7 linked regions of the Homo sapiens genome follow. The protein of the gene in region 7 interacts with the protein of the main gene of each other region in a biochemical or structural test. Each region holds a gene or a part of one and is shown on either strand. Other genes may lie near its edges. The genes, in order: RSBN1, KCNJ12, XKR7, ATP2A2, DOCK4, KCNB1 and MAGI2.

Evidence for each region.
Region 1: the proteins of MAGI2 (region 7) and RSBN1 interact in a test that uses a peptide from one of them, tested with the Homo sapiens proteins (one large-scale study listed by IntAct).
Region 2: the proteins of MAGI2 (region 7) and KCNJ12 interact in a test that uses a peptide from one of them, tested with the Homo sapiens proteins (one large-scale study listed by IntAct).
Region 3: the proteins of MAGI2 (region 7) and XKR7 interact in a test that uses a peptide from one of them, tested with the Homo sapiens proteins (one large-scale study listed by IntAct).
Region 4: the proteins of MAGI2 (region 7) and ATP2A2 interact in a test that uses a peptide from one of them, tested with the Homo sapiens proteins (one large-scale study listed by IntAct).
Region 5: the proteins of MAGI2 (region 7) and DOCK4 interact in a test that uses a peptide from one of them, tested with the Homo sapiens proteins (one large-scale study listed by IntAct).
Region 6: the proteins of MAGI2 (region 7) and KCNB1 interact in a test that uses a peptide from one of them, tested with the Homo sapiens proteins (one large-scale study listed by IntAct).

Annotation. Positions count from the first base shown.
Region 1 is NC_000001.11:113,774,048-113,778,638, reverse strand, and holds part of RSBN1 (lysine-specific demethylase 9), read left to right. Parts: exon of another isoform or gene 1-819; intron 820-830; coding exon 831-968; intron 969-1,286; coding exon 1,287-1,429; intron 1,430-4,591. UniProt on the Homo sapiens protein: Histone demethylase that specifically demethylates dimethylated 'Lys-20' of histone H4 (H4K20me2), thereby modulating chromosome architecture.
Region 2 is NC_000017.11:21,378,684-21,383,274, forward strand, and holds part of KCNJ12 (ATP-sensitive inward rectifier potassium channel 12), read left to right. Parts: intron 1-4,591. UniProt on the Homo sapiens protein: Inward rectifying potassium channel that probably participates in controlling the resting membrane potential in electrically excitable cells. Probably participates in establishing action potential waveform and excitability of neuronal and muscle tissues.
Region 3 is NC_000020.11:31,998,444-32,001,902, reverse strand, and holds part of XKR7 (XK-related protein 7), read right to left. Parts: 3' UTR 1-3,459.
Region 4 is NC_000012.12:110,346,584-110,349,847, reverse strand, and holds part of ATP2A2 (sarcoplasmic/endoplasmic reticulum calcium ATPase 2), read right to left. Parts: 3' UTR 2,456-3,264; coding exon of another isoform or gene 2,436-2,455; 3' UTR 1-2,435.
Region 5 is NC_000007.14:112,199,632-112,204,222, reverse strand, and holds part of DOCK4 (dedicator of cytokinesis protein 4), read left to right. Parts: intron 1-4,591. UniProt on the Homo sapiens protein: Functions as a guanine nucleotide exchange factor (GEF) that promotes the exchange of GDP to GTP, converting inactive GDP-bound small GTPases into their active GTP-bound form. Involved in regulation of adherens junction between cells.
Region 6 is NC_000020.11:49,475,596-49,480,186, reverse strand, and holds part of KCNB1 (potassium voltage-gated channel subfamily B member 1), read left to right. Parts: intron 1-4,591. UniProt on the Homo sapiens protein: Voltage-gated potassium channel that mediates transmembrane potassium transport in excitable membranes, primarily in the brain, but also in the pancreas and cardiovascular system.
Region 7 is NC_000007.14:78,123,468-78,128,058, forward strand, and holds part of MAGI2 (membrane-associated guanylate kinase, WW and PDZ domain-containing protein 2), read right to left. Parts: intron 3,950-4,591; coding exon 3,730-3,949; intron 2,371-3,729; coding exon 2,227-2,370; intron 1-2,226. UniProt on the Homo sapiens protein: Seems to act as a scaffold molecule at synaptic junctions by assembling neurotransmitter receptors and cell adhesion proteins. Plays a role in nerve growth factor (NGF)-induced recruitment of RAPGEF2 to late endosomes and neurite outgrowth.

The sequences.
Region 1 (4,591 bases), on a different chromosome or scaffold from region 7:
AAATAAGTTTGTCATAAGTTGAGTAGAGAAAAAGATTGGGGCCAGGCTTGGTGGCTCACACCTGTACTCCTAAAACTTTGGGAGGCCAAGGCGGGTGGATCACTTGAGGTCAGGAGTTCAAGACCAGCCTGGCCAACGTGTTGAAACCCCATCTCTACTAAAAAAATACAAAAATTAGCCAGGCATGGTGGCGCACACCTGTAATTCCAGCTACTTGGGAGGCTGAGGGAGGAGAATTGCTTGAATTGGGAGGTGGAGGTTGCAGTGAGCTGAGATCATGCCATTGCACTCCAGCCTGTGGGACAAAGAGTGAAACTCCATCTCAAAAAAAAGGAAAAAAAAAAAAAAAAGATTGGCCTGTCTTGGTAACAGTGAGCCTCGTATCCTGGTATCTGGGCTAAAGTGAAGACTTTGAAGCTAGGGAGTACAAAATGAACATGGAAGATTAATATGACTATGGTCTTTTTTTCTCCCTGCCCTGATGATTTTACTTTTATATGTTTTTTTCTTAAATAAAGATCACACTCTAAAATATTACAAAGTTAAAAAAATCATTTTTAGAGAAGTTTAAGTATTAAATAGATATTAATGTCTTCAATGTTTCTTTGAGATCTTCAGGTTAAATCACACATTGAAATTTGCTTGTGGCATATGTATTAGTGTATTTGTCAGTGTGCTTGGGTGCCTCTCTGACTTTATTCAAGGTATTGACCATTCAGTTCTTAGTTTGTAGAAGAAATGGCAACGTTGGAAACAATAACCTATTTTAATTCTTTAATTATATTATAGTTGTACCTCAGTCCATTTTTCCCTCTTTTGTTTTATCTTAGGTCAACAGGACATACTGCTGTGGCACCTACCGAGCAGGTCCTATGCGGCAGATAAGTCTCGTTGGAGCAGTAGATGAAGAAGTTGGTGATTATTTCCCAGAGTTCCTTGATATGTTAGAAGAATCACCATTTCTGAAAGTGAGTGTTAATTAAGATTATTAAAGTTTTGATCTTTACTTAAGTGGGCACTTTATATGTTGAAGAGTATTTAGCTAATATTGCCTATTGAAATTAAATTTATCCAGTGTTTTGCACAGAAATGTTTAGATAGAATAATATTAGTACAAAGTACTTAAATTCAATTATTCTTTTTAATATAAATTACTATGTAAATAGCATTTATTTCTTTATATACAGTTGTAAAAAAGCCTTCTTAGAACTTTTATTTGGGTGGGAGGATTAACTTATAAATCATTGAAACAATTTTTTAATGTGACTAATCCGTCTGATTTCTAGATGACTTTGCCCTGGGGTACACTTTCTAGCCTCCGACTCCAGTGTAGGTCCCAGAGTGATGATGGGCCTATAATGTGGGTAAGGCCAGGAGAACAGATGATCCCTACAGCAGATATGCCAAAGTCACCCTTCAAAAGACGACGGTAAATATTTCTTTTTCTCAAATAAGCAAAACTACTTTTTTTTAGTTGGTTGCTTATAAAAATGAGCACAGTTTGAAAACCATTTGTCTTGGGCTCCCTTAAGTAAATGTTTTAGTTGTCGGTTCCTCTTTTCAGTCCAATCATCACAGTTATCACAGTGAGGCATTTTTCTAAAACACAAATTTAATTTTTACTTATTTTTTAAAAACCTGTGCCCTAACTGCCTGCAGGATAAAAGATCAAACCCCTTAGTGTGGTTTACATTAATAATCAGGTCAACTGTACCTCTTCTAGATGTATCTGTGTTTAGTCTTCTCCGGCCATACCGAATTCACTTTCCAAACCATAGTCTATCATAACTCTTTGCTTTTGCACTATTTTTTTTTTTTTTTTTTTTTTGAGATAGGGTCTCACTCTGTTGCCCAGAGCTAGAGTGCAGTGGTACAATCATAGCTCACTGTATTCTTGAACTTCTGGTCTCAGGAGAGCCTCCCAAGTAACTGTGGCTATAGGTGTGTACCACCATGCCCATCTGATTAAAAAAATTGTTTTGTGTATTTTATTTTTGTAGAGATGGGGTCTCACCATATTGCCCAGGTTGGCTTTGAACTCCTGGCCTCAAATGATCCTCCTGCCTCAGCCTCCCAAAGTGCTGGGGTTACCGTCCCACAGCAAACTTAATACATTTTCAAAACTTAGCTTGAGCTGGGCACAGTGGCATATGCCTTTAGTCCTAGCTACCTGGTAGGCTGAAGTAGGAGGATCAGTTGAGCCCAGGACTCCACGACAAGATCCTGACTCAAACCCAAACCAAAACCAAACAAAACTTAACTTGGACGTCACCTCCTTTGTGAAGTTTTTCTTTCCTTCCTTAGGTAATTAATTGTTCCCTACAATGTTCTGTTCATTAAAGTTTTGTTTACATGTTTTTATTTTCTACTAACATTTGAGGTGTGCTTTGGGAAGACAGGGACTATTTTATTCATCTTTGTCCTCATGACATATACTAGGTAACCAGTATTTGCTACATGAAACCAATAATGTTCTATAGGACCGAGCCTCAGTAATTCATATTGTGCTAACATGTTTTGTGTTTCAGACTTTGAAGACAAATGTAGATTAACTCACTCTCTAGTACTTTGAAAAATCTAATTTAATGAGACTGAAAATGATCTATACCTGCTTAGACTACGAAAATAGCAATTCAAAATAAGTGCCCAGAAGTGAGTTTTAATGGACTAATCTAAACCTTAACTTAAGGCTCATAGGAGAATGATACTTGAGCTAAGTATGGAATAATCTTAGGTACTTGAAATGTATGAAAATACTTTGAAAACATTATGTACGATGCAGGGTGGTGGCATGGTAAAAACCCAGGAGTCATTTGAAAGTTCTGCACATTGCTAGATTATAGCAGTTTTTGTTGCAGGATGATGACGAATCTTGAAATCTTATTAAATTGTTAAATACTATATACATTTTTTGTTCTGTAATCTTTCCTCAAAAAATGACCATCATTTGTTTCCTGATTTTTATAAACTTAAGAAAAAAGTAATAGGAAAGAGTAAAAAGAGGGCAGGTGCAGTGGCTCACACCTGTAATCCCAGAACTTTGGGAGGCTGAGGCAGGCAGATTGCTTGAGTCCAGGAGTTCAAGACCAGCCTGGGCAACATGACAAAACCCTGTCTCTAGTAAAAATACAAAAATTAGTGTGGTGGCACGCTCCTGTAATCCTAGTTACTGAGGTGGTTGAGGCATGAGAATCGCTTGAACTCAGGAGGCCGAGGTCGCAGTGAGCTGAGATGGTGCTTCTGCACTCCAGCCTGGACGACAGAGTAAGACTCATCTCAAAAAGAAAAAAAAAAAGAAGAGTAGAAAGAAGGCAGGCTGGGCATGGTGGCTCACACCTGTAATCCCAGCACTTTGGGAGGCCAAGGCAGGCGGATCACCTGAGGTCAGGAGTTCGAGACCATCCTGGTCAACATGGTGAAACCCCATCTCTACTAAAAATACAAAAATTAGCTGGGCATGGTGGCAGCCGCCTGTTATCCCAGCTACTCGGGAGGCTGAGGCAGGAGAATTGCTTGAACCTGGGAGGCGAAGGTTGCAGTGAGCCGAGATTGTGCCACTCCACTCAAGCCTGGGGGACAAGAGCAAGACTTCATCTCCAAAAAAAAAAAAAAGGTAGCCACCATTTAGGCATATTAACCTTTCAAATTATATATAGCCATAAATAATCTTTTTACAAAATCCATTCTTTGTGTGATGTTTACTTTAAAACTTGGGAATTTTTACTGTATGGTTGTATCAAGATTTATTTAACCAATTCTTGGTTTTTGTTTTTGTTTTTTCTTTGAGACAGGGTCTTACTCTGTCACCTAGGCTGGAGTGCAGTGGCATGATCAGGGCTCACTGTAGCCCATCTCCCAGGCTCAAGTGATCCTCCCACCTCAGCCCCACCAAGTATCTGGGACTACAGGTGCCTGCCACCATGCCTGGCTAGTTGTTTTTTGTTGTTGTTGTTGTTGTTTTTGAGACAGAGTCTTGCTCTGTCACCCAGGCTGGAGTGCGGTGGTGCGATCTCGGCTCACTGCAAGCCCCTCCTCCCGGGTTCACACCATTCTCCTGCTTCAGCCTCCCAAGTAGCTGGGACTACAGCCTCCCGCTATGATGCCCGGCTAATTTTTTTTTTTATTTTTAGTAGAGATGGGGTTTCAACGTGTTAGCCAGGATGGTCTCGATCTCCTGACCTCGTGATCCACCCGCCTCGGCCTCCCAAAGTGCTGGGATTACAGGCGTGAGCCACCGTGCCTGGCCTGTTGTTTTTTTTAATTTTAATTAAAAAAGAGTTGGCCCTCACCAACTCTTTATTAGTGTAATTTTTTCCCAGGTTTTCAATGTAAACAGTATTTTGAAAACATGATACTGGTGTGCTGGAGCCAGTTTGTACCTGTTCACAAAGGCCATCATTAGCATCACTTTCCAGTTCCACATTGCGTGATGTCACGTTAGTAACTGGAAATCATTCGTGTTAGGTGTATTTATACCATAGAAATCAGCAAATCAGCTAAAATCAGCCACCTCCCCTGACCCTCAAGTCAGATGTAAAGTATATAGAGCATACCACTGATTGTATATGGATGGAAGTTTGGTAGATATGTA
Region 2 (4,591 bases), on a different chromosome or scaffold from region 7:
GCAGGTAGGGGCTCCAAGTCCTCTATCACCTCCTTTTTCCCCTCCCAGGGGAGGGCATGGCTGACACCCCTCATCCCCAGCACTGAAGGGGGTGGAGCCTTCTCTGGGAGGGGCAGGACCTGAGCTGTCAGTCCATCTCTGGACACTCCCCCTGCAGCTACCCCGTCAAAACCCCATAAGGTTTCCAGGCTGCCCCGGAGGGGACCCCTCCAGGAATGTGCCTCAACTGTGCTGGAAGGAAGAGGTGCCTGGGAAGTGGTGGAGGGGTATTGCCTAAAACCATGCAGTGGGTTGGGTTTGGACAGATGCCTTCACCTAGCTCTTTCCAGGCCAGGCGCTTACCCCACCAGCCTTCCTGCCCCAGGGCCATGGTGTCCCCATCCCTGGGTCTCCTTGAAGCAGGACAAAGTAACACTGAGTGGCCCTGCAACAGCAAAATAATAATGACAGCAGTGATAACAGGAGTAACAGCAGCAGCAGCACCTGCAGCTCTGCAGCACTGGGGCCGGTTCTGCCTATGGGCAGTTTTCTCTGCCTAGCCAGGCCTCCGGTACCCTGGGCCACAGTTGGCAGTACCAAGCGTGGCACCCGGAGGCCTTGGCATATGGCTGGGGCGGAAGTGAGTGCATCATTACTGTCATCAACCTCTGTGGCCCTCGCCAGGTCCCCAGGCAGAAGGCTACTGGTACACACGGTGCCCACCCAGTGGCCACCCTCACCCCCCCTGCTCCCAGGCCCAGCTCTGGGCTGGGCCCTTCCTCCAACAGGTGCAGCTGGTGCCTGTGGCTGGGCCCTGGCCAGGGCTTTACTGTGAGCGACACATGGGTACACCTGCCCCTCCCCGGGCCTGCCCTTGGAGCCCTGCCACCGGCTAGCGTGGAGGAGAGTCAGGGAGGGGGCAGCTTGCGGGCAGCAGGAGGGGTGGAGGCTTGGCTGGCCACATGGAAGGTGCGGTGGGTGGGGGCTCAGCCCCACGGGATGGCTGTGCCGGGAACTGGCAGCGTGATGGGGACACGGCAGCAGGGAAAGGCTGAAGATGAAAGAGAGCTGGCCTGAAACTGGGCCGTGTGCAGGTTGGCCAGAGCTTCAGAGGCACCATGGGGTTGGGGGTGGGGGGGGGCCTGGCAGAGGCAGGTGGGTTTTCTGAGGTGCTGGGCTCGGGGCAGGACCAGAGCCCCCGCTGGGCACTGGCCAAGGACCCAGCCCTGGGTCAGCTGACTTAATTTCCTAATGGCCTGCCAGTGCAGAGGGTGGCATTAGCTCTATTGTGCAGACAGGGATTGGAGGCCCAGGGAGGCACTGGAGGCACCAGCCTGTGGGGCTCAGACCCAGAGCCCTGGTGCTTTCCCAGGGACAGAACTGCACCTTCCCCCATTCCACAGACACACCCCTCAGGGGCATTTGACTGCCAGGCTAGCTTTCTCCCTGCCTTACCACCAGGCAGGTCCCACACAGGGCCTGAGGCCTGCATGCCATCCCAGCTCCCGGGAGCTGTATTCCTAGGACCTAGTTAAGCCCTGGCACAGAGTAGGTGCCCAGTAAATGCTCGATGATTCCATGTCTGGACTGCTTCTTCCAGCCACAGAGGCCTTGCTGTGCTGGTGAGAGCTGTGGGGGCTGAGTTCTGGGGCTGGAGACCCCAGGCCCTGTTGCCTAGCTGTGGCCCCTGTGCTGGGTAGCCATACAGAAGTGCTTAATCAATGGGCATTGCATACGGGGAGACCCAGCCCCTGCCCTCAGGGATCTCACTATCTCAGAGGAGACTCTTGGACAGACTCAGGGGGGCAAGAGAGGCAGATGTTGCCACCAAGATGGGGTCACTCTTCCTGGCCTCAGTTCATCATCTGTGAAGTGGGACTGGCTCCGGAGAGTGCTCAGGATGGGGCAGTAGGAATGTGAGACTTGGAGCGTGCCTCTGGGAGTTGGGGGTGGGGAGGGGCTGGTCTCAGTAGAAATGGACGTGTGGAGAGGGGGATCTGGGAAGGAGGGGGTGTGAGCATTTGTGGAGCCAGAGCCTGGGGAACTCGTCATTTCCCCATCCAACCTTCCCTTGGACATGTAGGGAAGCAGGCCCAGGGCAGGGCAGCGAGTTGCTGTAGCAGTGGGCCCCAGATGGCAGTGGGCCCCAGATGGCAGTGGGCCCCAGATGGCAGTGGGCCCCAGATGGCAGTGGGCCCCAGTGCAGGCCTCCTGTTTCCTGGTGTGTCCTCAGTGTCCCCTAACCCCAATCACCACCACTGGTGCTCCACAGCTCACTCCTTCCTGCCTGGCTGCTGAAGTGGCAGCATGAGGCTGTGGAGACCTTGGGGACCCCCGCCCAGCCCTCTAATTAGCCTTCAGCCATGCATCATTGGACATGGTTCCATTTGCTTGGCCAGATAGGAGTGGGAACCCCTTTCTCAGCTGCCCCAGGGAGCAGTTCCGCCTTGGCTGTGCATTAATGCTGTCCTAGGGTCAGTGGGCACAGCCTCCTGGATCCTGCCTGACTCCCCCTGCCCACCTGGACTGAGCCCTCCCTCCTGCTTGGGCAGCCAAAGCCTCCCTCTCCTGCCCTCACCTGCAGCCCAGGCCTCTTTGAAGGACTCAGGCTTGGAGAGGGGCCAGGGAACAAACAATAAAGCTTATGGAGTGGAGGCTTCTACCAGAGCCACTCTGGGCCATTGTTCCTTGAGCACTTTCTATGTGCCTGGTGCACTCTGGGTGTCAGGGCCCTCTGTCGATTCCCACCACACTCCTCCCTGGGACCCTCAGGGCCCTGCACAGTCTGGCCTCACTTCCAGGACTCTTGCTCCCTCCCCGGGGCCACGCTCCTGCTTGCCTTGCTGTGCTTCCAACAGATCAGGCCCACTCCTACCTCAGGGCCTTTGCACATGCTGCTATCTCTGCCTGGAATGTTCTTTCCCAGATCTCTGCACGGCCCCTCCCTTACCGCTTTCATGTCTTGCCCAGATGCCACCCTCTCTCCAGGACCTCCCCTGATTCCCCTGTGGGACACTGCAGCCTCCCTTTCCCCCATGTTCCTTTTCCTGCTTTATTTTTCTCTGTAGAACTTAATGCTATCTGCCACAATATATTTTATTTGCTGATCTTGTTTACTGTCTATCTTTCCCTTGGAATAGGATCTCCTCTTTTTGGACCTATTCTACCACAGCTGTGTCCCCAGTGCCTAAGCGGTAGGCAGGAGATGGCAGGCGCCCAGTAAACACAGAGAGTGAATGGGCTGCTTCAGCCAGGCCTGGTGCCTGACATGCAGTGAGTGCTTGGTAGCAATGGTAGCCAGCATTGTCAGCCCATTCTGCAGATGAGAAAACTGAGCCTCAGAGAGGTCACTGTCCAAGAACTGTGGCGCTTGTTGGTGGACAGAGCTGGATTCTGACCTTTTCTCTGAGCCTTTGGCCTGCCATCTGTCTGTCTGGCTGAGTGGGAGGGAGTTGGGGCTTCCTTCAGGCCCCTACTCTGGGTGGAGTGCTTTATATCTGTACCCTCACTGCTTCAAGCTCCAAGCCCTGTTGTGTCCTCTAGCACTTGGCCTGCTTCAGCTCAGGATGTCCCCATCTGATTCCTTCTGAGGATCACAAGCCGTTCCCATTGCAGATCCCAGCAAACTGAGGCCTGGGGCGTGGGGCCTCTCATATCTCAGCTGATGGCTGAATCCTTTCTCCTGCCTTCAGCATACATGTTTGGAGGGCGGCTGAGGGGATGGGGCTGGCAGGGAGGGGACAGTGTCTCTGTTTCTTGCCCAGTTAAGCATTCCAGACTCCCCACGGTCATTGAGTTTCATGTCAATGCATTTCACCTCTCCTTTCCAGTCTTTTTTTTGGAACATGACACCCACGTTATAAAATGTTTAAAAATGTTTATGATTTGCAATGATCAACTCCAGCGGCTTTAGTGGCCAGCAGTGATCACCTCTGCAACTATAGAGACTGGCATGCTTTCTGCTTGCCTGAGCACTGCCCGTCCCTCCTCCCCTGGATGTCCATGTTGCCTCAGAAAAGACAGGGCTGGTGGCCCCTTTTGTGGGGAGCAGATAGGTTCTGGTCCTGGGCCTCAGCCAGGTGTGCCCGGTTGGCCAGGTGTGCAGCCAGGTGTGCCAGGATGGGAGATTGTCTCCTGGGGCTCACCTGGGGAGTGGGGGCAGAAAAGGAAACCAGGTAACATGAGGACTGGCAGCAGGGATACTTCTCAGCCCTCCCTGCCTCCACCCCAAGGGTGTACAGGAGGGTGCGACGTGACACCTCCACTGTGGGAGCGGGCAGCCTGAGGCCAGAGAGGGTCCCCACAGCCGGAGGTCACACAGTTCCCGGAGGAAGGCTGGGGCGCAGCCTTGAGGCCACAGACCCTCTGTCCCTGATGCTTCCAGGCAGCTTTTGGGGACTTGGCAGGGGAGGGGCCGGGGAGAAGGGAGCATGTGGAGACTGAGATGTGTATGATAGAGAGGATGAAAGGCCGGGGGCAGGAGAGGTCAAGGGGGATGGAGTGGCCTGGTGGCCGGAGGTGTGCCCTTGCCCCTGCCCGCCCCGCTTGCTCCAGCTGCAGCCGGGCCCGAGCTGGCGGCTCCAGGCCTGCAATTCTCCAGCACTTAAAGCAA
Region 3 (3,459 bases), on a different chromosome or scaffold from region 7:
TGAGACACTGCAAAGCACTTTAATATAGAAACTACAGCTCCCCCTACCAACCTCTACTGCAGGCCCCACCACAGCTTGAACTGGGAGGGAGACAGGTGCCAAAGGTGGCAGGGGCCAGCACAGAATGGGACTCTTGGGTCCTGGCTTTCAGTCCACATCCTGCACCTGGACTCCCCTGCAACCCAATGTAGATTCCTCCTAACCAGGGGCCCCCAAGCTGGAGAAGACTCCAGCAGCCTCTAACCCCATGAGGCACTGGAGGGGCCTGTAGCCCTTATCAGATGATTCCCAAACCAGGGACCCTGTGGACCCCCCAGATTTCCCTTTTCAGCTGAGAGGGCAGTGGGCTCAGTTCTCAGATAGCCAGGTGATGGGGATTTAGGGTTGGACTAGCAAAGTCTCAGAGGGAGCCACAGCCTCTGTCCCTGACTTCCGCTGAGGGGTTTCCACTTGGCAGGACACTCCAGAACCTTCTCAACATTTTGAACCGTAAGTCTCAAACTGGTGGCACGTGGGCCAAATATGAGTGGCCAGCAGTTTCCCAAACATTTGAATTTTAGTACCTACAGGCAGGGCACACACTCACTCTCCTGTCTGCCAGAGTCCCCAACACTCCCTATTGTCTCCATTACTCTTAGTTTCATTATCTCGAGGCATTTGAGTTTGCATCCCATGCAGCCTTCGTCCCAGAAAACCTTCTCCCTATTGTCTGAGGCTTCTGTGGACTCCAGGTCCAGATTAATTCCAAGGGAAGAACCTGCAGAACTCGAGTACTTAGGAGGGTGTTGACTGCAAGCGAGACCTTCCCTGGATATTCCCAGCTCCCTCAGCCCTTATCCAGAGGCCTGGACTTTCCCCAGGCCTCACCTTCCCTGCCCTCTGTCTTTCCCGACTCTCATGGGTGACATGCCTCTGTGGGACACAGGTGTAGCAGGGAGCTGGCTGGGGGTAAGGCAGATTTGGGGGAGACACAAGAATGAGGCAGATGACAGGAGGGGATCAAGCAAGGCTCCCTCATTGGGGAGCCCTGTGTGGGGGAGTGGGGAGGTCTGTGCTGTTCAGCTGGGGTGACAGTTACAAGGCACATGGCACATCAGTGCCAGGAGGCGCCGTGATGTGGGTGTGTGTGGTGCCTGCAGAGGTTTGGGGAACACAGTCAACAGCGTGGGGGTCAGTTCTAAGAAAACAGGTAGACAGAAGTCTGCCCTGGAGATGGGGACACTGGTCTCCTGGGGTTAGAGGTAACTGAGGGCAGGGCCTGCCATATTTGGTACCCAAAGCATCCTGTTCTCTTCTGTTCCTGGCAAAATTAAGACACACCCAACTACCTCTCATCCCCAGGGAAATCCTAACTGCCACTGACTTCCTGTGTGGCCTTTGGTGAGTCCTTGGTCCTCTCTGGGTCTCACTTTCTCCTGTCTAATGGATGTGGAGGGCAGGTGGCTTAAGGAACCCTCAGGGACCCTCTGGGCTGCAAGGACCCTGGCAGGGTGGGAAGGACAGGGAAGGACTGAACATCCAGACTGGGGTGGGGGTCAGGGGACAGGAGGCAGAGGACCAGGGGGGTCAGTTCTGCTAGGGGAGAGACTGGCTGAGGTAGATTGTGTCACAGAAAGAAAAACAAAACAGCTCCAAGGGGATGGACCCCTCCCTCATCTGACTCCTCTATCCCAGTGAAATGAAGGGACAAGCCAGTGGAGCAGGGGGCCTCAGGCCTGGTCCCGAGCTCCTGGGTGGAGAGTCCTTTAAGGGCTGAGACTCTTCTGAGGGTGAGAAGCAGGAGGAGGTGCCTGCAGCCCTCTCCCTGGGCCCTTTGACTGTGGCCATTCCTGTGCCCAGATGTCCCTGCAGGCAGAAGCCCTGAGGGAAGGGTGTGTGGGGTTGAGAAGAGGTGGGGAGTGGGGGTGGAGTAAAATCCAAAAATGTAGCCATGGCTTCCCTGCGAGCCTCAGACCATGCCAAGCCCTGCCAGCACATCCCTGCCCCTTGGGAGTCTCCTGGAGTGTAAAGGACCCCAGCTAGGACTTTTCCTCTAGAAGGCAGCAGCCAGATGGGCCATTCTGGGATACTGGGGAGGAGAATAACTTGCCAAGGGTGACCCTCATGCTACATCTCTGGGCCTCAGTTTCCTCGTCTGTAAGATGGGTTGATAATACCTCTCTTGCAGGGACGTCGTGACCAGAGGAGAGTGTAAGTGAAACGACATGGGGTGAAAATTCCTGGCACAAAGTTGGCCCTGGAGAAACAGTCTGTTTCTGGGTCTGGGTCCGCATCTTCAGAGCTCCCATCTCACAACGGCTTTGTGTGTGAATTCAGCCTCCAAAGATGGATTTGGAGGATGGATGAACCCAACAGAGTGGGCCTGGGTCAGCCTTGGGCTTCTCCCACCTCCCGTCACCCTCGAGGCCTCGTTCCTGAGGGTGCTTAGCAGCAGAAAGAAGGAAAAGCACTCTTGCTGTGTTGGCAGGAGGGATGATGCGTACACCATCTCGGCCTGTGTGCTGGTGGGGAGGGTGACCCGTATCATGGTTGTGCTTGTGCTTGTGTGTATGTGGGCAGTCTGGCCCTCCCTGCCTTTGGGGTTACCCTGCATCCCCAGCAATTCATCATTACCCATCACCTTTTGATGGGCAGCCCAGAGTCTGGGACCTTGAGAGAGTGGCTGCCACTCTGGGCCTCAGTTTCCCATCTGTAACCCAAGAGAGGCTGAACCAGGGAGGGCTAAGCATCCCTCTAATTTGCATAGTCTAGGATTCTCATGGCCCACCTCACTCCAGGATCAGGTTGGCATCTGTCCTTAACATCCGCTGCTGTCCTCTCCCACCAATCACACCTAAGTTGCTGTGGGAGTGTGTGTGTGGGGGGGTGGGGGGTGGGTTGGGTTCCCAGCTCTGCTAGAGGCTCTGTCTCCTCACCCCATGGAACTGCCTACTTCCCCTCTCCCATACGCCCCCTCAATCCAGCACTGGCTGTCCTAGGTGGGAGGAGGGGCCCTGGGTGAGTCCCCTGGGCACTCCAGGATGTTCAGGCCATGGGAATAGACCACAGGTCCTGGGGAGTCATCAGATCTAAGGCAAAACAAGTCAGTTTCCCAGATGCCGCTCCAGGGAGCCCCATTTGCAGAGTGGCTGAGAGCCAGGATTCATGTCACGTCCCCAGAGCTATTTTTTTTTCCAGCTGGGAACCAGTTGGCAGCTGAAATGTCTCAGGGGTTCTGAGGACAATTTCCTTTTAGAAAGATGGCTATGGACCAAGGTAACAGGGGCCTAGAGCTCCCATGAGCCCCAGAAGTCTAGAATGAGAGCACCCATTCCTAGAAAATTCCATTCACGCTGGGCTCTAGAACCTCTTCTCCCCCACCACTGTGACAGGTGCTAGAATCCCCCACAGCAGAGCAGCAGGCCTCCAGTGTCCTCCTCCTCACAACAGAATACACAGATCAGAGTGGCTCCCTGGGAC
Region 4 (3,264 bases), on a different chromosome or scaffold from region 7:
AGAGGAAACTCCTCCGCATCATTCTCCTCAGTAAAGGAGGGTGAAGCCTACCCTTCTTGCTAACTGCAGCGGGTGTTTGGACAATTTGGTGGTTACAGTCACAGGGCAACTGCTGGCTCTGCTCACAGGCACTGCAGACGTGGTATGCTCTGGCCCTGGACAGTGGCTAGATGCTTGGTAGACACTGAGCTAATCTTGTGGTCTCAGGTCTTAGGTCTGCCCACCTCAGTCAGGGCTGAAGCTCCAGTCCGAGGGGATGTGGGAGCAGCTGTTGTGAGGGAAGTCGGCCAGATGCCCTGCTTGCCTGGGAGCTCACTGAGCTCAAGGGACAGCTTCCTCCAGAATGGATCATCTGCATTCTGCAGAGTGGTGTCCCAGTTAGGGTATGTATGATTGTTGGTCTTCTGGGCAAAGCTCAGAGAGGCCAAGGGAGGCACGGGGTGGCAACAAGCGACACTGATGGCTGGGCCTTCAGCCACCTGCCCATCAGGAAAGAATGTGGAAGTAAGTTTCAGGCAAGAGCTGCCTGACAGCAGGCACATTGCGGGGCTGGGCAGCTGCTGCCTCACTGTTAGGTGAGGGCCTGAGGCCAGGGATGTGCCAAGACCACGGTGCTGGACCTGGTCTTTATGGGTTGACCTGAGGAGGAGATGCTGAAGTGTTTTCACCCAGCAAAGCCTTCAGTGAAATGGAGCAAGTGGCCCTGCTCAAAACAGCAGTGGGCCTAACCCACTCCCAGCTGTCTGGACCAAGGGAAGTGGGTCCCTCCATGGGCTCCTCTGTGGGCTGGAGGGGTCTGAAGCTGAGAAACCATGAAGCTAACTAGGGGCTGTGCGACAGCAGGCCACACACTACTCAACTTTTTTTGTAAAGGCCACTAAGTCAAGGAACTGAGTCAGGAAAAGCTGAGTTTTGTTTGCACGGAATAGCAATAGTGCAGCACTCAAGTCAGTTTGCAGCCCAGAGATGCACTCCTTGCATTTGGCCCATTCAACCCATTTCTTGTTACACCTCATGATGCTCAAACTGGCAAAATTTACCCCCTGCCCCAAATGTTCCCTGCTGGGCAAAGCAGCCTCCCTTCCCGAGAGCCACAGCTGCCTGCGAGCAGCCTTGGAGGCTTCACAGTAAGGCTGATTTTTTTTTGACAGGGCCTCACTCTGTTGCCCAGGCTGGTTTGAGTACCTGGGCTCAAGCAATCCTTCTGCTGTGGCCTCCAAAGGGCTGAGACTTACTTACAGGCATGAGCCACCACACCCAACCACGGACTGTGCTTTTAAGAGTCGGTCTCCAGGTTCCACCTCCATCCCTTGAACGTGGGCCCTCTGAACTCAGCAGCACCTTGTCCTGCTTGATGCCTCCTAACCCTCCCCAAACTCCAACCATCTGCATTACATCTACTGGCCATCCCAGTAACCAGAGCCTAAGTACATTTTGAAGAATATAGTCGAGGCCTCACACCCTGGCTAAGGAGTAAGCTGGTTTTTGGGCTGTGCAGAGCCACGTCCTACTAACTGTGCTTTAACATCCCCTGCAGAGCTAAGTCTTAGCCACCAAGGACAAGACCAAGCAAGGGGGGGTGGGGGAGTGGGGAAGTGGCCTATTTAAGACGAACCTATCGATACCCAGAGTTCACTGGTTCAGTTACTTGCTTTCACTAGTTTTTAGCTTTTTAATAAATAAGTAGCAATGTTCTGGGATGACTCCTGGCAGCTGCGAACCCTCATTTTAGCAATAGTCTGCACAGCTCCTTCAGCCTGTTGGTCTGGCTGAAATGCCTCTCTCCCCACTCCGGCTTTTGTCTGGCTTGGGCCCTCCTGGTCATCTTGTCCTAGGCAGCCTGTGGAGGTCTATGAAAGCCACACCTCCAGCCAGCTGATGCTGCGCCCGAGTCACATGGCAGGCGCCACAGGCAACCCCGGTGCTCACAGGGCATCAGGGAGCACAGCAGCATCTGCCATGGAGGCGGCTTATAAGTTAGTGACATACAGTTATCTCACTTGGTGGCAGTCACCTTTAGGCTAAAGCATCCAAATCCCAGGAAGAAAATACTCACGTTAGTTGATGGATGTTGGAAGGCATTGGAGGAAAACACCACAGTTAGGACTGTTAATGACTTACACACTGTTGGTGAGACTCATCTCGAACATGCGCAAACATTGATCGTAGTAACGGTGGTGGTGGTTAGTGCCACATTCAAATAAAAATAGTTCTATACAATATGTTCATTTGGTCATGTGCTATTTACAGATTTTACAAAACACACACATACACACACATACACACTTGCCCTTATGTTCTCTATACCAGGCCAGCAGAAACTTGCATAAAATGTACATCACAGATGACAATTAGTGCCTGTACATTAAGAATACAATTCCTATGACTACCTACACAGCAGAGCAGGAGCCTTCTTCCCCTCAAGCAGAGTACAACTAAAGTTCTGAGCTAAGAACTGGAGAGAAAGTTGGACATGTCTGTTAGTCCCAGGTAAGCCACTTACGAGTTAAAGACAAGACAGTTATTTTTCTCTGTCCATTTAAAATGTTTTATTTTTTTAAAACTAGATGACGTGCCACTGAAATAGGCAATGTTGGCAAAACAATGTCTGTTACAATAAAATACATTAGACATTTAAATAAATAACCTTAAAAACTATGTGAAGGGACATAAACCCAGTCGATTGAATCTGGAACAATGTTTTCTGCACAAGCGAGTACAGGCATACCTCTCGTTAAAACTGATGTAAACAGAACGAACCATCACAATCCTAAAGAAGAAGCCAAGCGGGGCGGGGGTAAGGTGGGGAGAGGTGGGGTGGGGTGGGGTGAACGGAGGCCAAAGTGGGTGAGGGAAGTAGCAAACCAAAACAATACTGACTGAGGTAGCAAGACTCTGCTCAGTGCAGAAAAATTGGCTTATGAATAAAAATTAGACTGTGATATCAAATTAAATCCGGATCATCATGCAAAAGACACAATACATGCTATTTAGTTTTAGAAAAAAAACCACACACATTCATTTCCTAAAATCTGCTGCCAATTAATTTGCTGACAATGTCTGCTGGCTCAACTATTTTTTTTATACAAGGATGAGTATTAAACAGAACACTGTACATGCTTTTTCATCTACAAAAAAATATTTGCATAAAATAGTGTTAGTTCTCTGTACATGTCAATGGACACTTTAATTATGTGTATAAAAAAGGAAAATCTTGCCCCACTGGAGTCAGAAAAAGCAAAACAAAATCTAGAGTATGAAACC
Region 5 (4,591 bases), about 34 Mb from region 7:
TTCCTCTCTTGCCTTTCTTTACAAGCGGTGGGCAGAGGCTTAAAAACCACTCTGGGATTTCCTGGAATGGCAAACCGGATATTATCAGTCAAATGTTTTGGGCTGCAGCAGACACCTCGGTTTTGGGTGGTTGTGATTTGATTGCAGAGTAGGGGAGGCAGAAGGGTGTGCTCACAATTGAGAAAAAGAGGTTGAATGAGATGAAGGACGAGAGCAGAGAGAGGGTCTTTTGCCCCAAATTACTGCTGTTGTTCTCAATATCACATGTGCCAGAATGTTAATTAACCTTTATTATTAATTTTTGAGCATTTGGATTGTGGAATGCTTAGCTGTTTTTTAGAATCCATCTGTTAGGCGTGTGTGTGTGTGTGTGTGTGTGTGTGTGTGTGTGTGTGTAGTGAAATTTTTGCTAGGATACTTATGTGTGGACTTTATTTTTCACCATGGAGGGCACTGTTTATAGCTGCTTATATTGCAAGTTGTTTGTTTTTTCTTTTAACCTTGGTTAATGTTTGTGTTTTTCTCATGTAGTTCTTACAGATGTTAAAGAAAAGATCTTATGGGCACAGATCTTTGTTACCAAGTGTAGTGGTAATTTAGTTTCTTCATTCTTTGAAATAAATCAGTCTTTGTAACAGAATATGTGACGTTTTAGTATAAATTATATATTTCTGCAAAGGTACTTTTTATATACCCTCATTTATGTATGAGATAATTATGCTTTTATATACTTATGATTAAATTTTAAGCAGCATACTGTAAACATGGGTAAAATTAGTTAAATTTTATATCTGTAATTAAATGTATCGGAGATGGAAATTCTTTTTCGTAACTGATGTATAGGCACCGTCCCATTTAATGAATGATTAAATTCATTAAAACAACGAAAAGTCAGTCATAAGTGTTCTGATTTTAGGAAAAGGTATAGTGATGAAGTTATAGTTCTGAGGAACAGGGAACCTTGTCTTTTAGAAATCATGTTAAGAGGCACAGTGATAGGCAATTTCACCTTAGGAGATTCTAGTTAGCTCTTGATTCTGGGCTAGACACTGCTGCCAGCTGTGTAACCTTAGGTAAATCACTTAGCCTTTCTGGGTCCCAGCGTCTGGGGCAAGTGTTAACTAAAGCCTTCCCTGGTACTAATTTTGTAGAGCTCTTCCAACTAACTGTGTTCTTTGGTTAGAAAAACATCTTCATTGTGTTGAGACTGCTATGACAGAGACACTTTTGTTGTGACATATCTCACTTGGTTTTTAAGTAAGATCAGAGGTAAGCAAACGCTACCTGGCAAGCTGCCAGAACTGAGGTGCTGGTTCCTCTCTTTCTCAATTTGTTTGATTCTCTCTGGCTAGTAGGAGCTCCATGGGCAGTGACTGAAGCATTTTGTTTGTTTTTTAAATGTATTTTCCTTGACAAATAATAATAATATATTTTTTAAGTTTTCATTTTTTTTTTTTTAATTTAGAGACAGGGTTTTGCTCTGTTGCCCAGGCTGGAGTGCAGTGGCTATTCATAGGCGCCATCATAGTGCACTATAGCCTGTAGCCTCAAGCTCCTGGTTGATCGCCTCAAGCAATACTCCCACCTCAGCCTCCTGAGTAACTGGGATTACTGACATGCACCTTCTCACCCAGCTGTATATATTTATGGTGTACAGTGTGATATTTTGATGTACGTTTACAGTTGGAGTGATTAATCAGGCTATTAACAAATTACACCTCATATAATTACCATTTTTGTGGTGTAAAAAACATTTAAAATCCATTCTAGCACTTTTGAAGTATACAATGCATTGTTATTTATTGTATCTCCATTCTGTGGATATCACCTCCCATCTGTTAGAATGGCTGTATAAAAACAATGAAAGGTAACAAGTATTGGTGAGAGTGCAGAGAAAAGGGAACGCTGTGCACATGTTAGTGGGAATGTAAATTAATACAGCTGTTATGTAAAACAGCATGGAGGACCTTCAATGAACTAAAAATAGAATTACCATATGATCCAACAATTCCACTGCTTGGTATATATTCACAGGAATTGAAATCAGTATGCTGAAGAAATATCTGCTATCCCATGTTCATTGAAGCAGTTCTCAAAATGTCTGAGATATGAAAGCAACCTAAGTGTCCATCATCAGATGAATGGGTAAAGAGAATGTAGTATCTATACACAATGGAATATTATATAGTCTTGAAAAAGGGGAAAATCCTGTCATTTTCAGTAATGTGGAGGGTATTATAGTAAATGAAGTAAGTGTAAGTCTGGCACAGAAAGATAAGTACTGCATGATCTTGCTTACATGTGCAATCTAAAGAAGTTTACTTCATAAATATAGAGATTAAAGTGATGGTTGCCAGAGTCTGGGGGAAGAGGGTGGTTGGGGAAAGTGGAGATGATGATCAAAGTGTACAAAGTTTTGGTGAGACAGGGGGAACATGCTTTAGTGATCTATCGCACAGAATGGTGACTAAAGCATTCTTGATCGCATACTCACCAATTTCCTCAGATTACCTCTACCTCCTGCATGTCCTCATCTGTTAGCACACCCCCCCATTCCTCCCCCCTCCCCACCCCGCCTTAAAGTGGTGGGAATTATTCATGGAGAAAGCTAAGACCTTTGCAGATTGTTTTTGCGTTCATTTGTCCAACAGGCTTTTATGCACAGATTCACAGATGAGTCATGGCATCTTCCTGAGCTGAAGGCTGCACCCCTCAAACCTAGCCAGATGTTTTACATGTGTGAGCTTAGTTAAGCTTGACAGGAGAACACGGGCTGGATTGATCGGTGCAGAAAATCCATGAACCTTATAAGAAACAAAACTCAGAACAAGCTGATCTGAAGTCACAGTGTCATTTAAAAAATAAATTGTGTGGTGCGAGTATCACTCAGTCATCACATAAATTCCTGTATTCTATTTTTCTTGAAGGAGTTTTTGAACTCATCTGGGTAGGAATCATGTTCCTTTTTAAAGCCCCTTCTATGTTGGTGGAAGAAGATGCACCTTCTCGTATTCATACAGGATAGTTAGGTGTCTTTCTCCTTAGAAAGATGCTTTAATCATAGCGTATGTGTGTGATAGAGCGTAATAAGGATGTGTTTCCTTTACTCTTAGTTTTTTGTAGTTTCTTAGCTAACAGTTTCTTAAAGTGTTTTCTATTAGTGGTCCTATGATGTATCTACATAGCATGTAAAGCTAAATAATAATGTTCTGCTTGGAATTGTTTGTGACATTTAGAGCCTGACACAGGATTCTAAACTTTAAGTGGGAATAGAAGAGAAATGATTTATACCTCCCAGTAAAATACCACCGAAGGGCCATACAGACAGTGGGATAGCAGCTTATGTTCTTGATCTGGCCTCCTATGGGAATGGTCTATAAAAATGTTCCCCTCTTTTGGTCATTCCCCTAAGTGACAGTTCTTCACAAGGCCCCTGAAGCCACATAGAGATGCTGCTCTTCCTCTATGATCTTGTTTTTTTTTGTTTTTTTTTTTTTATTTTAGAGGCTGTTATGGTAGCTAGTACGAGGGAGATTATACAAATTTCAAGAAATTTAGGATTTCCTATCTCTAGCTCTATTCTTTTCCAAAAGGAGACAACATTTTCTGAGTTATGTTTGATACAATATGTCTATGTTTCTATCACAGTGACTTCATGCTGTGAATATATACATCAGAGGAACATTAAACTCTAATGAAACCCTTCTAAAAGGCTGTAACCGTAACACAGTAATACAATGTTTTACTTAAAAAGTGAAATTATTTTATCTGAGTCTACCCTTTGAAGTTGAATGGTAATTTCTATTTAAGAGATGAGAAAACAGTTTCATAGAGTTTAAGTGACTTACTCTAGATTAGTAGCTTTTAATCTTGTTTGACTATTACCCATAAGAAATATAGTTAATTTCCTGACCTAGTATATATATAAATATCCCCCAGTACCACCCCACACACATATAATTAAAACAGCACTTGCTTATACTCTATGTAATGTTCTATTCTTTTTTGTTAAAAAAAATACTTGTCACTAAATTGACTTGTTAATGGGTCCTGACCCACAGTTTGAAAAACACTGCTTTAAATGCTACATTTGTGATACCAGAAGGACTGCAACTCACATCTTACTGGGTTTCTGTGAAGTTCCTTTCATGACATTGGCAAGGAGTTGATGGTGGTGGTGGTTATTGTCTTTGATAGTCAGATATGTGGGTTTATTTTAACAAAGAATTTAATTATCCTTTTTTCCTTCAGTCTAAGTCAAAGTCTGTCTTCTGTAGTATTTCTTATTAAAGATGGAACAAATATTTAAAGCCATCACATGCATTGCGTAAGTTTTCTCTTTTAGTACTTGTATGTCTTCCTACCAGGACCTTTTTGACAAGGATTACATAATGACCAATATTAGACTCTTCTGTATCATGTCCTTTGACAACACTCTCTGGTCACTATAACAGAAGAGTAAAGATAATGGTTTACTGAGGTACTTTGCCAGTTGTAGGTTTACCACTCACTATTCTTTTGTACCTTTTTTTATGTTGCTGATCATTATTAGAAAGACAAGGCAACTTGTATAACTTGTTTTATTAAAAAA
Region 6 (4,591 bases), on a different chromosome or scaffold from region 7:
CACCGGGGCTTGCAAGAGGTGCTGTTTGGGAATAAAGAACCTCTCCTCTCCCTTGGGTTAATCCGCTAGCAGGGACAGCCTTGTGACCTCTCCATGATCCCAGTCTGGGGCTGCCAGCTCACATTCCTGGCAGATGGACCATCTAGGATTTTCTGTAGCCAGAGCTGAAATGGGGAGGGAGGCAGGCTCACTGGCCCTCAGAATAGAAATCCTGGCTGCCAATGATCAAACACCTACTGTGTATGGAGTGTAACAACGCAGCTCTGTTATTATCCCACCTTTCGCAAACAGTGAGGCTGAAAGAGGTTAAGTAACTTGCCTAAGGTCACACCACAGGCAGTCAGGAGTAGCCAGAAATCCAAACCGAGTGTTCTTTCTATAATGATCAAGTGCCGCAGCCTCCTCCCCAGTCTCCCGGCTTCCACTTTTGCCCCTGCAATCCATTCCCCACATAGCAGCCAAAGTGAGCTTTTCAAAATGTAAATTGGATCACATTATTCATCTGCTTAAAATCCTCCAGAAGTTTCCCATCACACTCAAAATAAAATTCAGACTTTTCATCCTGGCATACAAGGCCCAGGCAGAATCTGGCCCCCATGACCTCTCTGGGCTCATCTCTTTTGATCTCCTCTGGTTCACTTGGCTCCAGCCCCACTGGCCTTGCTGTTCCATAAACAGGCCAGAGTTTATCTGACCTCAGGACCCTTGCACTTGCTGTTTCCGCTGCCTGGAATGCTCTTCCCCAGATTCCCCCTTGGCCAGCCCCTTCTCCCCCTTCCTCATTTGAGCAGGTCCCTGCTCACATGTCCCCTCCTCATACAGACCTTCCTTGACCGCTGTTCTAAACAGTTTCCCTCCCCTCACTCTCTGTTGCATCATGCAATGCCTTTCCTGCAGAGGCCTTAAACGCCATCTGAAATTATATTTCCTTCTTTGTGTGTCTCTGTTTCACACCCACAAGAATGTGAGTACCATGAGTTGATTCACTGCTTGATTCCCAGCACCCATGATGGTGCCTGGCACTGAGGAGCATGTGGAATGAATAAATGAATGAATGAACGAATGAATGAATGAACGAATGAATGAATCAAGCAAGCAAGCAAGCAGTCAGTCACTGTGTCTCAGGGTTTGGGGACCTGTCACCCCTTCTCACTGCCCACCTGCAACCCAGGTCCCTGTGCCTCTGGCCTCCTTTGAGTCATCTGCACCTTGCCCATCCCATCCCCACCCATCCCCCCAGCTTGGATGCCTTGCTTGTCAAAACAAGCAAAGCCTGTGGAAATTGCTTAGAACTCACAGAGTGACAGGACCAAATGGAGGATCATTTCTAGGTGATTGTAAGATACAAAAGTGGCCATATCTCATATGCTGAAGAGCAAGGATGGATCTGGTTCTGTGCCACTCCCCACTTCCATAGCTTTTAGCTAATTTCTCCAACTTTCCAAGTCCCAACCTTCCACCTGTAAAATGGAGATAAAAGGCTCACCTTACAGGGTCTTCATTAAATCACATTTGTCAAAATTTTGCTCAAAGCCTAGCACATAGCAGGTGGGGATTGTTGTTATAAATGCTAAGGAAAAGAGTCTTTTTTCTAGGGCTGGGTGGGCCGAGTTGCTGCAAACCCTTTCCTTCTGAGAGCAGCAGGGCCAGGGAGACTGAGCTGACACTGTTAATAATTGATGGGATGTTCTGGCAACTCGGAGACAAACCAAAGCACAGGCCCTAGGCTTTGCCATCAGGGGAGCGAAAATCAAAACCCATTAGGCAAAAGGCAGTGTGATTGATTCTTGTTTAGAAGATGGGGACAGCCCCATTGGTGTGACAGGGTTGCGGTGCTGGGGCTACCACGGGGCTTTGGCTTTCTCGGAAAACTCGACAGGCTTTTCTCAGTAGGAGAGACAGGGAACTGATTTGCCAGCCCAGGAGTGTCTGTGATCCCTGGGATAGTCTCAGGATTAAAGCCCTGAGATAACTTCCTAATTTCCAGGGTAGCTTATGTTTGTTGTGCCCAGCACTGATTAGTGGTGCTTCATATCTGCTATCTCATTGAAATTCCTCCAACAGGGATACAACCAGGTAGTATGCCAGTTAGGGATGCTTTGGGCTGCAAGCAGCAGAATAGAAAACTCAAAGTAGCTTCAATAAGGAGGAAGATGCATCATTGAATATAATATGAAGTTCCAAGGCAGTTGGTTTTAGGTTGAGTTAATGGCTCAATGATGCCACCAGGATTCTAGATTCTTTTCATCTCTCTGCTCCTCTGCTCCCCAACCCCTGCAAGTGGCTTGGTCCTCATGCTTGATGCTTCATATCACAAGATGGCTGCCCAGTTCCAGCCCTCAGACGTACATTCAGTGATGTTTAATCCGTGAAGAGAAACATTTTCTCCTATGCTCCACTTTCTTTCTTTTGTTTTTGAAATGGAGTCTTGCTCTGTCGCCCAGGCTGGAGTGCAGTGGCATGATCTCGGCAGCTCACTGCAACCTCCGCCTCCTGGGTTCAAGCAATTCTCCTGCCTCAGCCTCCTGCCGAGTAGCTGGGATTACAGGCATGTACCACAATGCCTAGGTAATTTTGGGGTTTTTAGTAGAGACAGAGTTTCACCATGTTGGCCAGGCTGGTCTCAAATGTCTGACCTTAAGTGATCTGCCCGCCTTGGCCTCCCATAGTGATGGGATTACAGGTGTGAGCCACAGCGCCTGGCCCACTTTCTTTTTTTTTCTGAGAGGAAACCCTTTCCCAGGAGCACCCTAGCAGACTTCTTTTAAAATCCCATTGGCCAGGACAGGTCACATGCTCATGCTCTAGCTCTGAGGGAACCTGAGAAAGCAAGTGTCTGGCATTTTCAGATGAGAGAGGGAATGGATCTGATAAGTGGTATGAAGACTCTTTTACAGAACAGGAAATGGAGGCTCTGAGAGGCGAAGTCACTTGCCTGAGCCCACACAGCTAGGTTCTCAGTAAATATTTATCAAAGGAATGAAAATTGCAGAGCCAAGGTTTGAACCCAAGTTTGTCTGGTTCCCAAGCCTATGTTTCTAAATCCTGGGACCTTGGGTGGATCATTTTAGCTCTCAGGTCCAGTGAATTCATCTGCCTGATGGTGATAATAGTCATAGCTCCCTTTCAGGGCTCTTTTGATGATTCAATGAGATTTCAGATGTGAATGTAATTTGTAAATGGAAAGTACTTTATAAGTATGAAGTATTATTGTATTCAAAAGTGGGAGTGGCCTTTATTTATTTATTTTTAATTTTTTAACTTTTTTCAGAGACAGGGTCTTGCTCTGTCACCCAGGCTGGAGTGCAGTGGTGCAATCAGAGCTCACTGTAACCTCAAACTCCTGGGCTCAAGTGATCCTCCTGCCTCAGCCTCCTGAGTAGCTGGGACTACAGGTGCACACCATCACTCCTGGCTACATTAGAAATTTTTTTTTGTGGAGACAGGGTTTTGCTACATTGTGCTGGCTGGTCTCGAACTCCTGGGTTCAAGTGATCCTCCCATCTAAGCTTCTCAAAGCACTGGGATTAAAGGTGACAGCCATCATGCCCAGCTTAGAGTGGCCTTTCTTTAGGAACAGTGGTCAATATTTTTCCCATCACAGACTTGATTAAGAATCAGCTCTGGAGTCCAACAGATGCGGTTGATTTCTTGTCTCCATTGCTTACCATGAATATGACCTTGGGCAAGCCCCTTTCCTTCTCTGAGTGTCACTTTCCTTATCTAGGAAATGAGAATTATAACAGAGGCAACCATGAAGAGCTGTTAGGAGATGCCCCTAATGTAAAGAGCCTAGCCCAGCGCCTGACTCATGGGAAGCATTCAGTAAGTGGCAGCAACGATTGTTAGTGTTTTCACGGAATTCCTCTGCTCCAGCTACACGTCTCTAGTGTAATGAGGTTCCAGCTTCCTTGACCTGAGCCACAAGGATCTGTGTATTATCATCAAAAGAAATGCGGGAACCAACTCAGAATCTATGGGGCCCCTTCAGTGTGATGAGTCATCGACTTAGGCTCTTGCTGGCCCCAGCTTGGTCAAACCAGATGCCTGTTTTTATCCTGGCAGATAATATGCCAGCAATTCTGAATCCTGATTGTGGGGTCACACAGACCTGGCTTCGAATCGCAGCCCAGCCTTGTCCTAGCTGTGGACTTTGGCCAATTTGCTTCACCTCTCATCACTTCCATTTCCTAATCTGTAAGTGAGGGCGATAATAAAACCTACTCCACAGGGTTGTCTGAAGGATGAAGGATGATAGCACATGATCAGAGTTGAAGCTGTGCCTGAGAAATCCCACATCCCCACAGGATAAAGAAACCCAGAGACCCAGGATGCTCCAGTGACCTGCTGAGGATCACACAGCCCATCATAGCCTTTCAAATCCCCTGAGAGACCAGCTGCTAAGAGATGATCCTGGTCAAACATCCTGGAGTAACAGAAAGATCCCTGAGCCTCAGCGGGTACGGGTGGCGGGGCCAGAAAGGCCTGGGCATGGCCCCTGATCTTTCACCGACTTGCTGTGTGAATGTGAAATGCTAGGAAGAAAAAGAGATGGTCAAATGAATGGGTTGGCCAAAGCTTAACTAACTAG
Region 7 (4,591 bases):
AATGCCAGCATCACTACTCTTGCACTTTGGGGCCATTACTAAGTAAAACAACGGTTACTTGAACACGGGCAGTGCGATACCATGATAGTCAATCTGATAATCGAGAGGGCTGCTGAGTAACCAGTGGGCAGGTAGCATCTACAGTGTGGATAAAGGGCTGTTTCACCTTCTGGGAAGGACAAAATTTCAGCACGATACTCACAACGCTGCACAATTTAAAATTTATAATTGTTTATTTCTGAAAAATTTTATGTAATATTTTTGGATTGCAGTTGACACAGGTATCTATAATAAAACCTCGGAAGGTAAAACCTCAGAGTTTCACCTGAAGAGCTTCCTAAAACATAGCCTGGTGACCCCACTCCTAGAGTTTCTGATTCAGCAGTTTTGGGTGGGGCTAGAGAATCTACATTTCTACCAAGTTTCCAGGTGATGCTGATGCCAGGAACCGTGCTGAGAACCATTGCTCTGGCTTAAATTCTGTAAGAAAGAGGAATCTTTTCCTGCAAGGGTATTTCTCTATTTAGGCTTCTTTGCCTTGGGAGTACTGTGTATATCCAGCAGCGAGTCATTTAGATCCCTTGTGAAAATACATGGCCACTGTTTGTAACCGACAGAGACCAGCCCTGTAGTCCACCGTGGGTCTCTATCTCTCACAGGGCTCTGGCCATTTTGCACATGGTCTTCCTACTGTGTTTCACCTGCACTGGAAAGATTAATTTTGTTTTACTTAACTGCTTGTGAGCTGGCCTTATAGCAGGTTAAGAAAGTGTCCTTCTGGCTTATAGGGAAGCTGTAGAGCCAGGAAACCATGTGGAGGCCCATCTTCAAATCAGGGCTAGACGGGGTAAGAGGAGGCTGGTGCTAGATCACGGGGAGGGCTGCCAGTCTCTGGTGTCAGCCCTGCCTGGGTTTAAATTCCAACTTGGATGCTTCCCAGCTGTCAAAGGATTGTGGTAGTGGGGAGAAACAAAGACATGATGTGCATGCCTTCTGCTTTTGGACTGTGGATAATCCTCTGACTTGGAAATGCGTATCATAGAAATGCAGACTTGGTGGTAGAAATAACAGATTCAGCCATCAGGGAAAATTGGTTGGTGAGGCTCTGCACAAGAACCTGAGGTTCCGGAACCCCAAAGCCACAGCTTTTCTTTATTAACTTAAAGAGGCAGGAGGGAGGGCAAGAATAAATTCTAGATTTTATTCATACACCGACACACACACACACACAAACACACAGAGAGAGTAAAGAGACTAATATTTTATATTGTTAACAAGCTTTGTTTTATACCCTTAAATGAAGAATCAGTTACCCATCAATCAGATGCCTCAAAGTAATTATTAAATGAAAAAATCTACTCTTAACTTTAATTGGAAAATTTCTAGCTGCTGTCTTTTTTTTTTTTTTTTCTTGAGACAGATTCTCACTCTGTTGCCCAGGCTGGAGTGCAGTGGCACGATCTTGGCTCACTGCAACCTCCGCCTCCCTGGGCTCAAGCGATTCTCCTGCCTCAGCCTCCTGAGTAGCTAGGACTACAGGCGCCCGCCACCACGCCTGGCTAATTTTTTTGTATTTTTAGTAGAGATGGGGTTTCACAGTGTTAGCCAGGTTGTTCTCCATCTCTTGACCTTGTGATCCTCCCGCCTCAGCCTCCCAAAGTGCTAGGATTACCGGTGTGAGCCACCACGCCCGGCCCCTGCTGTCATTTTTAAGAACAACCTGTATCCAAGAAGCCAAATCCCTTTTACTCCTAATGCTTCTGTCTGCCCAGTATCAAACCAAAAGACCAGTCAACACAAAGGAAAAATTTCCTAAAAGTCCCGCAAAACCATGTGATTAATCAATATGGGGGAAAAAGCACAAAACTAAAAATAAATTTCAAAAGATTCAACCTTAATCAAAACAGAATCATCAAACCATAGAAAGAATTATGGAGAAATAATGTTTCCTTTTCAAGCTATTTCTTAGATTTCTTTCATTTGCTCTTTAGAAAAATAGTACTTTACTGAGGTTAATCAATTAGAAGGTCATAAGCAGAAAAATGAGAATGAGAGATATTATAAAATAGCAAGTGGCCAGACTTTTAAGAAACTGGGTCATCATCAACTAGAAAGAGGGCAAACCTACAGCAACCCCGCTTGACAGCATGCTTCAGTACTCTTCCAATACCACAGTCGGTTTTTCTTTCAGAATTAAGCAATTCTATAAAAAGAGACTGTTCTTACCCTCATCCTCCCATTCCTTATTGCTGGTCCATCTTCTGCCAGTCTCAACACATACAAATCCATTTTGTATTCCCTTCCTCCACGAATGCTGAATCCAAATCCTTTGGCTCCTTTCTCCATGTCCACAGTGAAATAATCAAAATCCTTTGGGGTTGGGGAGAAAATGGAATAAATAATTATTTAGTTATCAGAGAAGCTTCTGTGGCTAGTCTCTGTGTTCTCCTTCTGTCTCTTAGTTAATGTATTCCAAATGACATGATGTTGGGAGAAGTCGTAATCTGGCTTCATAAACTACCCAAATGAAAGACAAAATTCCAAAGGTTTGAGCAGGCCAGAGCACAGTTTACTTGGTCATCAAAGAATTACTGTGTAGCTTGTTTACTTTGGTATTCATCAGTTTACTTGGCAAACGTGGAATGATTACAGATAGGCCTGAGTGACATCATCTCTCCTTTTACTTCTCTCATTCACTGCTATTGAGCACCATAAATAAATGTCAGGTGTGTGTGTGTGTGTGTGTGTGTGTGTGTACAAATTACAGAGTTTGCTGATTAGAAAAGTAAAATTTAGTGGGATCTGATAATTAGATCTCTCAGTTGCACAGACTATTGAATATCAAGTTGGAATGTACAAAATCAATTTCTCTTTTACCTAAAATGCAGTATGTCCAAGATTCTCTGATCTTCACTATTCTTAAAATCTTTGGGCATAAAGTTGATCTTCAATTCATAATAAAACACAATGTAATCTGATAGAGTTGAGATTGTACTTAATTTATATCTTGGTATGTAGTTACGAAGTAGGAAATATTTTCTAGATACCAAACTCTGGTCTAGACTCTTTTCATAAATGTTGAATCCTCATCCTGGCCTGTAAGGAAGACTCTCCCTTTAGGAAACTGAATCTCAGAGAAGTTAAGGAAGTTGACATGAAGCACATCAACAAATAATCATAACAACAGTGACACTGGTTGTGTAGACAGAGAGTTGTTGGCTGTGGCAGGCGCTACACTCTGGATTGTGAAGCCAAGCCTGGTCTTATTCTTACGCACAGGGGCTTGGCCCTTTATCACAGAGTGGCAGGTAGGGGGCCACGTAAAAAAATATGGACCTAAAATACCTCCACTGCTAGCATCTATAAAATTTTCTGCATTAGCAGCACTCTCAGAGGTCCCAGGTTAGAGCATTTTTAAAACTTTGACAAGGAAACGTACAAGGAGTTAGCTAGTATTAGCAGGGATTAGTTTATTCCATTACTACTCATCCGCTATTTATTTATGTATTTATCCATATTTATTTATTGTCCTGCTTTATTCTGAAATAGATTTATTTATCCAGCATGTTTCTGAGGATGCAGGTGTTACCCCGATGTTACCAGAACTAGGAATAGAACTTCAGCTCTCCATCCCAGACAGGTACTCTTTCCTCTGCCTCTCCTATTTCATTCCTTGCAGTTCTCTGGAAGCCTTGGTCAGGACCCACCCTGCTCTCCGGGAGGAGGTACCTGGGGTTGTCTGTAGTCCGACAGAGGGTACTGCCTGGTGTCGGGGGAGTGCTGCCTGTAGTCCAGTAGGGGAGGCTGCCTGTAGTCCAAGGGTGGGGGCTGCTGGTAGTCCCCTCCTGGGGGTTGCCTGTAATCCAGCGGGGGCTGCCTGTAGTCTGTGAATGGAGGCTGTCGGATGTCTGGTTTCACATCTTGCCTTGCTTTCACTTCCGACCTGTAACTAAATCAATGGAAATGGGATTTGCTTTTGTAACTCTGCATTCTAAAGAGGCTAGAGTGATCACACGGCCTCCAGAGGTGGGCCAGCCATGACAGCTCACACAAACCACTCCTCTCGGTGGTCCTGTTGGATGCTCAGGATTATGAGAAGGTTAAATATTATTTAAAAATCTCTGACAAATGCCATATTGTATGCTTTTTATTTGGCTCCTTACGAAGTCAAGGTAAAAATGATGGTTCAACCAGAACCTTGTGAAAAAGCACTCATGGATGTTCCTCTTTGACTTTGGCTATTTAAAAACTGTACAGCCACAGCAAATCAAGGGATTGAAGCACTGAACTATACAAACCAAGACATCAGCCTATCTTAAGACTGGTAAACCAACCTTCCTCTCTCACTCTTACTTTTTTCTCTCACACACACCCCTTGGCAGATCATTCATTACTTCATAAAAACATGATTGAAGTGATCTCTAAATACATTACAAATACACAATCAAAGGCTATTTTAACCTGCTGAGTTGGGTCTTTTTGAATATTTTACAGAGGTTAAAGGAGTGATGGTAAAATATAATCACCAACTACAAACCAAGTGGCAAGTCATTGGACCATTGGTAAAATTGGAAACATATTACACAGAGGT